Linked DNA regions of Homo sapiens. The protein of the gene in region 1 purifies or fractionates together with the protein of each later gene. This does not show direct contact. Each region holds a gene or a part of one and is shown in the gene's direction. Other genes may lie near its edges. The genes, in order: SLC2A13, NFXL1 and CDKAL1.

Evidence for each region.
Region 2: the proteins of SLC2A13 (region 1) and NFXL1 purify together in Homo sapiens (affinity purification with mass spectrometry; one large-scale study listed by BioGRID and IntAct). This does not show direct contact.
Region 3: the proteins of SLC2A13 (region 1) and CDKAL1 purify together in Homo sapiens (affinity purification with mass spectrometry; one large-scale study listed by BioGRID and IntAct). This does not show direct contact.

The regions. Positions count from the first base shown.
Region 1 is NC_000012.12:39,757,234-39,760,170, reverse strand, and holds part of SLC2A13 (proton myo-inositol cotransporter), read left to right. Parts: coding exon 1-145; 3' UTR 146-2,937. UniProt on the Homo sapiens protein: H(+)-myo-inositol cotransporter. Can also transport related stereoisomers.
Region 2 is NC_000004.12:47,901,017-47,904,675, reverse strand, and holds part of NFXL1 (NF-X1-type zinc finger protein NFXL1), read left to right. Parts: intron 1-1,352; coding exon 1,353-1,483; intron 1,484-3,659.
Region 3 is NC_000006.12:20,544,440-20,548,098, forward strand, and holds part of CDKAL1 (threonylcarbamoyladenosine tRNA methylthiotransferase), read left to right. Parts: intron 1-1,899; exon of another isoform or gene 1,900-1,906; 5' UTR 1,907-1,911; coding exon 1,912-2,084; intron 2,085-3,659. UniProt on the Homo sapiens protein: Catalyzes the methylthiolation of N6-threonylcarbamoyladenosine (t(6)A), leading to the formation of 2-methylthio-N6-threonylcarbamoyladenosine (ms(2)t(6)A) at position 37 in tRNAs that read codons beginning with adenine.

The DNA.
Region 1 (2,937 bases):
ATTAGAGGAAATTGAATCACTCTTTGACAACAGGCTATGTACATGTGGCACTTCAGATTCTGATGAAGGGAGATATATTGAATATATTCGGGTAAAGGGAAGTAACTATCATCTTTCTGACAATGATGCTTCTGATGTGGAATAATTTTCAGCTGCTCATATATTTAGTTATTTAAACAAACTGGGGGGAGAAGAACAGCAATTGGTGACTTCACTGCCCTGCTTCTAATCTGGTTCTTTCCACAGCCTAGTTTTGATTGACTTCATATTCTAGAATACTTGATTAGGAGGAAGATACAACCATGATGACTTTTTTTTTCCACAAGGAACAATATTTTAAAAAATATTTACAGAGATTTTAATCTAATAATTCTTAAGCAAATGTGTGTAATGCCTTCCTGAAATAGTCTAAAATGAATATTGTACCCAGTGACTTCAGTGGTATCCTTTTTTCCTAAGACCATTTATAATTATTAGTGGCAACAGAGTCAGTGCTAATCTAGCCAAATTACATATGTATAATATATTTATAAAGGATTCTGGGAGATGGTCCAAGGGTGTTCTGTGTCAAAAGATGGCCTATTGGCCCTCAGTTTTCCTACAGAGTAGTGGCTTATCTCTGATCAGCTGTTACAAACTAAATTCCATGTAAGCTTTCATCAACAAATTCCAAAGTGCCTCCTACAAGGGCACAGCTGTCCGTATCTCCTTTGGATTCCATATTTTTGTTTCTCTCCAATTCAGATATTGGGAGTTCTTCAGATACTGACTCTGCACACTATCTTTTGAACATTATGAAAATATAATCTGTCGGGTTGTTTTCATACTTCTTTTTTTTGCATCAGTGATAAGGCATACATTTGCGCAGATGAGCTAGGAAGTTTTGAGAAGTACCTTTTATGTTCAGAAAGTAACAGATTAAAGGTTTTTATGGGTTCCAAATTGGTTAGTCACTTAGGTATGCAATTATAAATGCAAAATAGTGCCAGATCTTTAACTGTATATCAGGGTCAGTTTTTGTTCATGCCCAAATCACTACACCTTCCTCATTGGCCTTGGAGTCCTACTATTTCGTGCCTTCATTTGTGTTACATACATAGCTGCAAGCAAACCATTTTTCCCCTTTCTTTTATTCAAACAATAATTTTTGAAACAAAAAAGAGGAAGGAAATCAGTGGCAGAAATAATCCTGCTGTTATTGGTGTTTGTTTAATAAAAATAATGGGACTTTTTTCTTAACTTTTTATTAGCTCTTCCTAAGGGAAATGTCACATATTATTATTTAATTGTACTTGTCTTTTTTTACTTTAAGAGCATAAACTCGTTTTTATTTTGCACACTTTTCTCATTTTCCTGAGAATTTACCAGAAAAAAAAAAGATACATAGATTTGTCTCTGTGTTTTTCTTATTCTTGGCTTAGTTTTTCCTTCTTGTGTAAAAATTGAGATTGCCTATTGGAACAGATAATTGGTTCTAATATAGCACGTCTATAAGAAATGCAGGCTTAATTATATTTCCACAATGTCTTTCCAAGGTATTCATTGGTTTTTATGGTAATTCATCACTGAACTCTTAATTTTTGCTTTTCTATTAAGAACTATATAGTATGTACAAAATTACTTGATCACAAAATTACTTGCTAGTTCCAGGAAAAATATGAATGAATCTTCTGTGGCCAGTTAGGAATACATCAGTTTGATGCATTTTTAAATGGCTCTAAACATCTAATAAGGTACTGTATTTGGAGAGAAAAGGTGGCTATCTCCATATTCAAAATATTTCTTCCAGTCTCCAAGATACTCTATTCTTTTAATGTCTGGCTTGTTCCTATCACAGTTATCAAGCTGAGAATACAGCTGAGGAAGTTCATTCTCTAAGTCACCAGAGGTATAATATGTGCTTAAACTGTCAATTTAGTGCCCTAAAAATCCATTAACCAAAAACAAAAACGTTTTCTCCCTTTGGTCATTTCATATAATAAAAAAAATTAATATTTTATAGAGGTTTTTTCCTTGAATTAGGTGCTTTAACAATTGATTTCCAAGGGAATATTAGTATTGATTTTTTCCTCAGAAAAGCAGATATGATTTAATAGGGAAAATTATTATTCTATTGATATTTCTTATCTCATAAGAAATTTCTTATCTAATATTTTACACAGGTAAATTGAAGTGAAAAATAAGCTACTATATGGTACAATCAAAATATAATAAGGAGAAAAAGTAGACCAATAAAGTGCTCTCTAAAAATTTATTTTTTGGACTTAATCAAAATAATTGCCTCAATCCTTCTCTTTATTGTATATGTAGCCTTAACTAACTATATACTTATAAACTCAGCTGGGCTGATGCACAGTAACTTTATTAAAGGAGAAACTGGACTCTTGTTATTTCCTAAAGCAGAACATGGCCTGTTCTCCCTGATATAAGAAAACAATGTTTTCAACTTTATAACCATAAATGCACATAATAACAGGGAAAATTAGCCACAGTTCTCCTCCCCTACTCCCCTGAGCCCCTACTTTAAAGGACTATTTGTTATTTATATAGTGTTAAAGATAATATTCCATATCTTTGAAGTATAAGACAGAGAGGCACAGTATAAGAATTATTTATAACTTTTTAGAAACAATTACTTGAAAAGGAACCTTATACAATTAGGGTATTATTTTTAGATTTGGTGAACATTTATAGTATATTAAAAATTAAATGTTTAAATTTTGCAGGTTTTTTTATATTAGGCACCTTTTAAGTTCCCAGCATATTTGGCTACCACTATCAACTTGGAAACATTCCATTTGTAGTATCATCAAATATATATTTTGTAGGACAATTTATATATGATGTGATTTGACCTACCATATTAAAGCAGACACAGATTACGTATCATGCTTTCAACCAAAATTACAGACTTCCTTTGAAACATGCTGCAGATTT
Region 2 (3,659 bases), on another chromosome or scaffold:
GTGAAAGACTCAACATTTAGACCTTAGATTAATTCACTGCTATTATAGCAGCATTGCCTAGAGAAAGCAAATCAAGTCAGATGAAATAGTTTGGTCATGTAGAGTGAATCAGAAATTTAACATGCTCTGGTTGGGTAGAAGAGTATAGCAGATACAGATGCCTTTTGTGCCTAGAGTCACATCTAGTTGGTTTACTCTGATTTCAGCTGCAGGGAATGCATAGTCTCTGCATGCAGATAGAAACCCACTTTAAACATTTGCTGTGTGTGTGCGTTTTTTCCGCCTCTCAATTTTGTTCTTGGAAATTGACTTAGCTAGTACATGGGTATAGTGCAGAAGCACTGGGGAGTTAAAGCCCCTTGCAGCAACATTGCACCACAGGGAGTTGGTAGGTGAATGCCCCAACCTCCTTTCCATTAGCGAGTGGGGCTGGGCAGTCCAAGGCGTGTTTTACATGGTTTTACAGAGGGTCCCCTGGAGGATTGAGCTTCTGTGGCCCTTAGTGGTAATCAGCTCAACCATATGCCATTCATTGGTTATTTCTTTTTCCCTGTCTAGTCCCCTTACTCCTGCATCCAAGTTCTTAGATACCGCTTTGGGGGTAACCCAAACTAAGAAGTCGGCTGTTTAATGCTGTTGTTAGCTCATGCGATATGCTACATGTCTGATTTTATCAAACAGTTGTAAAATGTTATAAGGAAAGGGGAACTGATTTTTATCAGTTTTATCAAAGTGTTTGGCAGGTTTTAAAAATTAATTTAGTATTATTTCTTAAGCTTTTAAATTATGTATATTCTTGTTTTTTGATTACCTAATTTTTAGAATTTAGCATTAGTTAGGTGTTAGACTAATAGGTTTTATATAACAAAAGGGCTGTGTAGAGATATATGTACATATTTATGTTTAAAGATTCTTTTGTAGTGTTATTTATACTTGGAAATAATCATCCAACAAGAAATTTAAGTACGTAAGTCTACATGGTGTAATGTATAGCTATAAATATGCTTATAGAAAAGACTATAAAGTTACATTTCAGTTATTATAGTATGACCTCATTTTTTAAAAGTATGAAAAAAATATATATATATAAATTTGGAGATTGTCCAGAATGTTAGCAGTAATTATTTCTAGCTGAATGAATCTGTTTGACTAATAATAATTTTCTTCGAAGTATCCTACATTTAAATGCATTTCCCATGAAACAGTTCTTCTGTTATACTGGAAGGAAAGACCTTTTTTCTTTAATCCTTAGGTAGCTCTTGAAAATAGTTTAGTGTGATACTCATTTTAAATTATTTTACAATTAACAAAGAAAAATTAACATATATTAACTTCTGATACATTTGTCTTAGGTTTGGAGCTGTTCGGGATGTTTCTGTATATTTCACATGCCCTGTATCCAGAAGTGGGCTAAAGACAGCCAGTTTCTTGTATCTTCTGTGACTGATGATGATTTTGGAAAGAAAGATTGTCCCTGGCCTTGGTAACTTTTTCTAATTAGTTGGATTATTATTATTATTTTCAGATGGAGTTTTGCTCTTGTCACGCAGGCTGGAGTGCAGTGGCGATCTTGGCTCACTGCAACCTCCACCTCCTGGGTTCAAGAGATTCTCCTGTCTCAGCCTCCTGAGTAGCTGGGATTATAGGCACCTGTCACTATGCCTGGCTAATTTTTTGTATTTTTAGTAGACACAGGGTTTCACCATGTCTGCCAGGCTGGTCTTGAACTCCTGACCTCAGGTGACCCACCCCAAAAAATCCCAAAGTGCCAACTAGGCTGGCACGCCACCACGCCTGGCCTAATTGGATTATTAAATTGTAGAATAAATGAAGATTGTAGATTCTAAGTTGCTTTATTGGTGGTTTCAATATCCATGTTGGGCTTTTAATTAGTCATTTGGTGTGTGAAGATGTGGAATCTTGATAAAGTCTTGTTTTTTTCAATTTGAATTTCTATAACTACTAGTTCCTTTTGATAACTAATAAATCATCCAGACTTAATTTTTCCTGTGCAAAACAATTCCTTAATTATCCTTTGAAAGGACTTTCAATTTTCTTTAGGACTGAGAATCATTCATAATTGTGATCTTCTTGTCCAGAATTCTATGAGTATGCATTATTATTACATTGTACAAGACTATCATTTAATGTATTTTGATTATAAGATTCCCAGTTTTATCCTCCCAAATCTCAAAACTGCAGGTGTATATTATACAATATCATTTTTTTACATTTATTAGTTTTGCTTATTATTGATGATTATTTGATCTGGAGAACTTTTGTTATATTTCCAGAAAGAGTTGGAGAGTAGAATTTTATATCTCTGCTAAGTAAAGACAATAAGAAATTTATTCATATTGGCTGCCCAGAGAGGTAGATTGACTGTCAAAGTAATGAAGCATAAGCTTCATGGGCTCTGTGTGGTCACATTTTGTAACTTTAGTAACTAATTTTATGTTTAAATTTTTTTTTTATTTTAATTTTAATTTTTTTTGAGACAGAGTTTTGCTGTATTGCCCAGGCTGGAGTGCAGTGGTGCGCTCTTGGCTCGCTGTAGCCACTGCTTGTCGGGTTCAAGCGATTCTCCCGTCTCAGCCTCCAGAGTAGGTGGGATTACAGGTGCCTGCCACCATGCCTGGCTAAGTTTTGTATTTTTAGTAGAGATGGGGTTTCACCATGTTGGCCAGGCTGGTCTTGAACTTCTGGCCTCAAGTGATCCACCCACCTTGGCCCCTCAAAGTGCTGAGATTACAGGCATGAGCCACTGCGTCTGGCCAGTGGTGTAGTTTTTAAAAACATTTAGATGTGCTAGTTACTTTTAGAAGAGTATGTAAAAATAATTCTCAGCAATCTGTGAGAGATTTTATTCTCCTGTTACCAGTGGGGATATTGAAGTTAATTGAAGGGAAATGACTTCTGACTCCTCACTCTTAAGTAGTGGAGCCAAAATTTGAAACCTAGGATTTCTTACTTTTAAATTCAGTGCTTTTTCTATTCTTCCACCTGAGTTATCTCTTATGACCTGGCTTTTAGAAATATTATTTTTCTTTTCATTGAATACACACTTTTTGGAAACTGTTTAACATTTCAAAGTATATTTGTTTTGCTCCTGCATATTATTTACTGGTGGTGGAGGAATTTTAGTGTCTAATAGGTACGGAATTAAGCCAGGTTTTAGTTTAGAGATTTAAACCTTATGTATATATTTTTTTACCCTCGCTCTTCTCACTTCTGTTTTAAGTAGTCGTTTTGCCACAGAGGAGGAAAGGATCAGTTAAAAAAAATGTACTGTTAACTTCTAATTTAAAAGGAACAACAGTTTAATCAGCTGTGCCATATACTTTGCATTCCATATTTCATATTTTTTTAAGAAAATAAATGACCATTCTGGTTAAGAACCCATTTTGTTTAATCCTCATCAAGATGGAGCTAGAACTTGGTAAAATGTTAATAATTTTAAGTTATTTTATGGAAATAAAAAATTTAAAATATAGGTTTCTACTAAGATACTGCTTTTTAATGAAGAAGATCTAGCATAATTACATTTCATTGTTGGCATCCCATTATTTAAAATAAAACTCATGCGTTTGCACATATTACCCTCACTGGGCCAGTTCAGTTTCAATGCTGATGGGCAGTGTTAAGGTATGTTGAGTTGC
Region 3 (3,659 bases), on another chromosome or scaffold:
ACAAAAATTAGCCGGGCATGGTGGCGCGCGCCTGTAGTCCCAGCTACACGGGAGGCTGAGGCAGGAGAATGGCGTGAACCCAGGAGGCGGAGCTTGCAGTGAGTCGAGATCGCGCCACTGCACTCCAGCCTGGGCCACAGAGCGAAACTCCGTCTCAAAAAAAAAAAAAAAAAAAAAAAAAATTGGGTAGACCAGTTCTTCTTACTTTACTCTTCTCAAAATTGTTTTAAATATATTAGTTTCTGTACATTTCCATATAAAATTTAGGATAGTCTTATCTATACCTACAAAAAAATCTTCCTGGGATTTTGATAGGGATTATTTTAAACTTGTGTATCAGTTTGGTCTCCACTGACACTGCAAAACTTCATTACTGGTCGGTTGGTTGGTTTGAATGTCCAGGATCCCTCCAGGTCCTTCTCTGATTCTACACTAGTGGAGTGTGTTGGGGTGCTTGATTGTAGGTAGAAGTCCAAGCTCTCCCCACTTGGCCTTTGTAGCGTGCCTGGGGGTGGGATTACAGTTTTGTGTGTGTGTGTGTGTGTGTGTGTGTGTTTGTGTTTGGCTGGAGTAGAATGATTATTATCTAAAACTTTTCTGTCTTCCTAGGCTGCCCTTTGTATAGTTCTTTAACGAGAAAGCAGGCTTTTATTGGGGGGTTTTATTGTTGGCATCTCTTGCCATTTCTGATTGCTGGGATCTTTAGTGAGCTGTAGGAGGCAGAAGAAAACCCAAGGAACTCATCATATTCCTTGGGTCCTGAGGTTCATAGCCAGTCTGCCTTATGCTTGTTTTATATATAATGTCCAGAGTTTTATTTGTATTTTGCTGGCGGGGCAGGGAAAAATGTGCTTATCTTCTTGCAAGCTGTGTCCACATTTTCTTCTTTTAATTATAAAAATTTTGAATATTTAGAAAAGTCGTATAGGATAATGAACATGAACCTATCTAGTTTCTAGTTTTAAGAGTTGTAAATGCTTTTCAGTATGTCTTAATCTATTTTTTCTTCTTTTTTGAGATGGAGTTTTGCTCTGTTGCCCAGGCTGGAGTGCAGTGGTGCACTCTCGACTCACTGCAACCTCTGCCTCCTGGGTTCCAGCGATTCTCCTTCCTCAGCCTCCCAAGTAGCTAAAACTGCAGGTGTACACCACCATGCCTGGCTAATTTTGTACTTTTAAAAGAGATGGGGTTTCACCATGTTGGCCAGGCTGGTCTCAAACGCCTGACCTCAAGTTATGCGCCCACCTCCCCAAAGTGCTGGGATTACAGGCATAAGCCACCCAAAGTGCTGGGATTACAGGCATAAGCCACTGTGGCTAGCCAGTCTATTTTTTCTGAGGTCCTTTTAAAGTAAATTATAGACATAATGACATTTCACTTCTAAATATTCAATATGCATCTCTAAAAAATAAAATTTTTGAATATAAGGACAATACTTTATATCGAATGATTTATAATAACTTCTTCATATTATCTAATATCCAGCTTATATTCTGATTTCCCTAGTTATACCCAAAATTTCTTATAGCTTGACAGACAAAGAAGAAACAATCAAGAACATGAACTGCATTTTGTTGTTAGGCTTTTACGCTTCCTGTTATCTGAAACAGTTCCTCTCCTACTTTTTCCTACTTGACATTGATTTGTTGAAGAAATAGTTCCTGTTGAACCTTGGAATGTCCCATTGTCATTAGGGTTTTGTCTGATTGTTTCATTGTGTTTCTTTTTTCAATATACCCAAGATAGTACTTCATCCTTGTGTTTCTTTATCTCTTGTATTTTCTATAAATTTGAAGTTAGATCCAAAGGCTTGATTAGATTCAAATTTGGTGAGAATATTTCATAAATGATGCTACGCTAAGCAGATTTTCATAAGTTGATTTTATTTATAACTTTTATGTGGTAGAGAATATGCCTTCTGCATCCTGTGATACACTACTGGATGACATCGAAGATATCGTGTCTCAGGAAGATTCAAAACCACAAGATAGGCATTTTGTAAGAAAGGATGTTGTCCCGAAGGTACGAAGGCGAAATACCCAAAAATATTTGCAAGAGGAAGAAAACAGTCCACCAAGTGACAGGTAAGCTTTTTTCCTTGAAATTATATTCATTTTCTTTTTTTTTCTTTTGAGACAGAGTCTTGCTCTGTCGCCCAGGCTGGAGTGCAGTGGTGTGATCTCGGTTCACTGCAACCTCCTCCTCCTGGATTCAAGCTATTCTCCTGCCTCTGCCTCCCTAGTAGCTGTGATTACAGGCACACACCACCATACCTGGCTATTTTTTGTATTTTTAGTAGAGATGGGGTTTCACCATGTTGGCCAGGCTGGTCTTGAACTCCTAACCTCAGGTGATCTGCCCACCTTGGCCTCCCAAAGTACTGGGATTACTGGCCTGAGCCACTGAGCACGGCCGAAATTATATTCATTTTCATTCCAGGGAGAAGCTGACGCTACTGGTCTGTGTGATATATATAATGTCTCTTCATTAGAATCTTTGAACTTTTGATAGGAAATACAAGTTGAGTATCACTTATCTGAAATGCTTGAGACCAGAAGTGTTTCAGATATCACATTTTTTTTTTTGGATTTCGGAATATTTGCATTACATACTTTCCAGTTGAGTATTCCTAATCCAAACATCTGAAATGCTCCAGTGAGCATCCTTTGAGTATCATTTTGGCACTCAAAAAGTTTCAGATTTTAGAGCATTGTGGATTTTGAATTTTTGAATTAAAGAAACTCAACCTGTATGTAGATTTTTTTTTTATTTGAATGATTTTAAATTTGGCAAGGTAATTGGTTAAAAAGAAATGAGATGTCAAATTGGATGTTCCTAGAAGATAGCCTCGGGCAATAGGGATCTCTTGGGTATTACTGTAGTTGATATGTAAGTCTGTGTTATTTCCAAATAAAATTTTTACCAGAGTTTGTGATTCTTATGAGACAGTAGTATTTTGGACATTTGAATTTTCTTAGCTGATTTTCAAATACCTGTGGATCAGGTAAAGGCAGTGGGCACAAATAAATTATTGCCCTATTTACGCTATTATAGTAGATCTCTAGTCCGTGAAATTTTGATACAACCTAACCAGAAAGGATAATGTAATTATATGGTTTTAATAAGCCTATATTTGTTTATCTAGTCAACTGCTGAACTTTATAATCTGCTTATTTTGTTGGGAAACTAAGCTTTTAAATTCTTGGAATTTAAAATTTGCTTATATTTTAATGACTGAAGTTTATAAAATTTGTCCTAAATGTGTCCTTAAGGTAATTTTTATTTACTTATAAATTATTAGAGCAATCCAAGTTGAAAGTCCTTTTTTCCCCTAAAAGTTATTTTTAGAACTCTGATTTTATAGAGTGCTTTTAATAATGCTTTAGGATGACGGTTTTTAACTTTGATTAAGTTACTTATATCTGTAAGTTTTAAGGAAGCTACAGATTGCAACTAGTATGTAGGAATCTGTAAACAGACATACTTTTCTTTATTTGCCATTGCTGCTAGAACCACTTTCTTTCCTATTGTTATTTTTGTGTACCTTTCCAGGAGTTGAACTTAGTAAGTTAGTAGTATGAATTTAAAATGCAATTCAGAGAAAAAGGATATTTTTTTATGTGGAGTGTTAACTTTTTAGAATTCTGTGGTTATTTTAT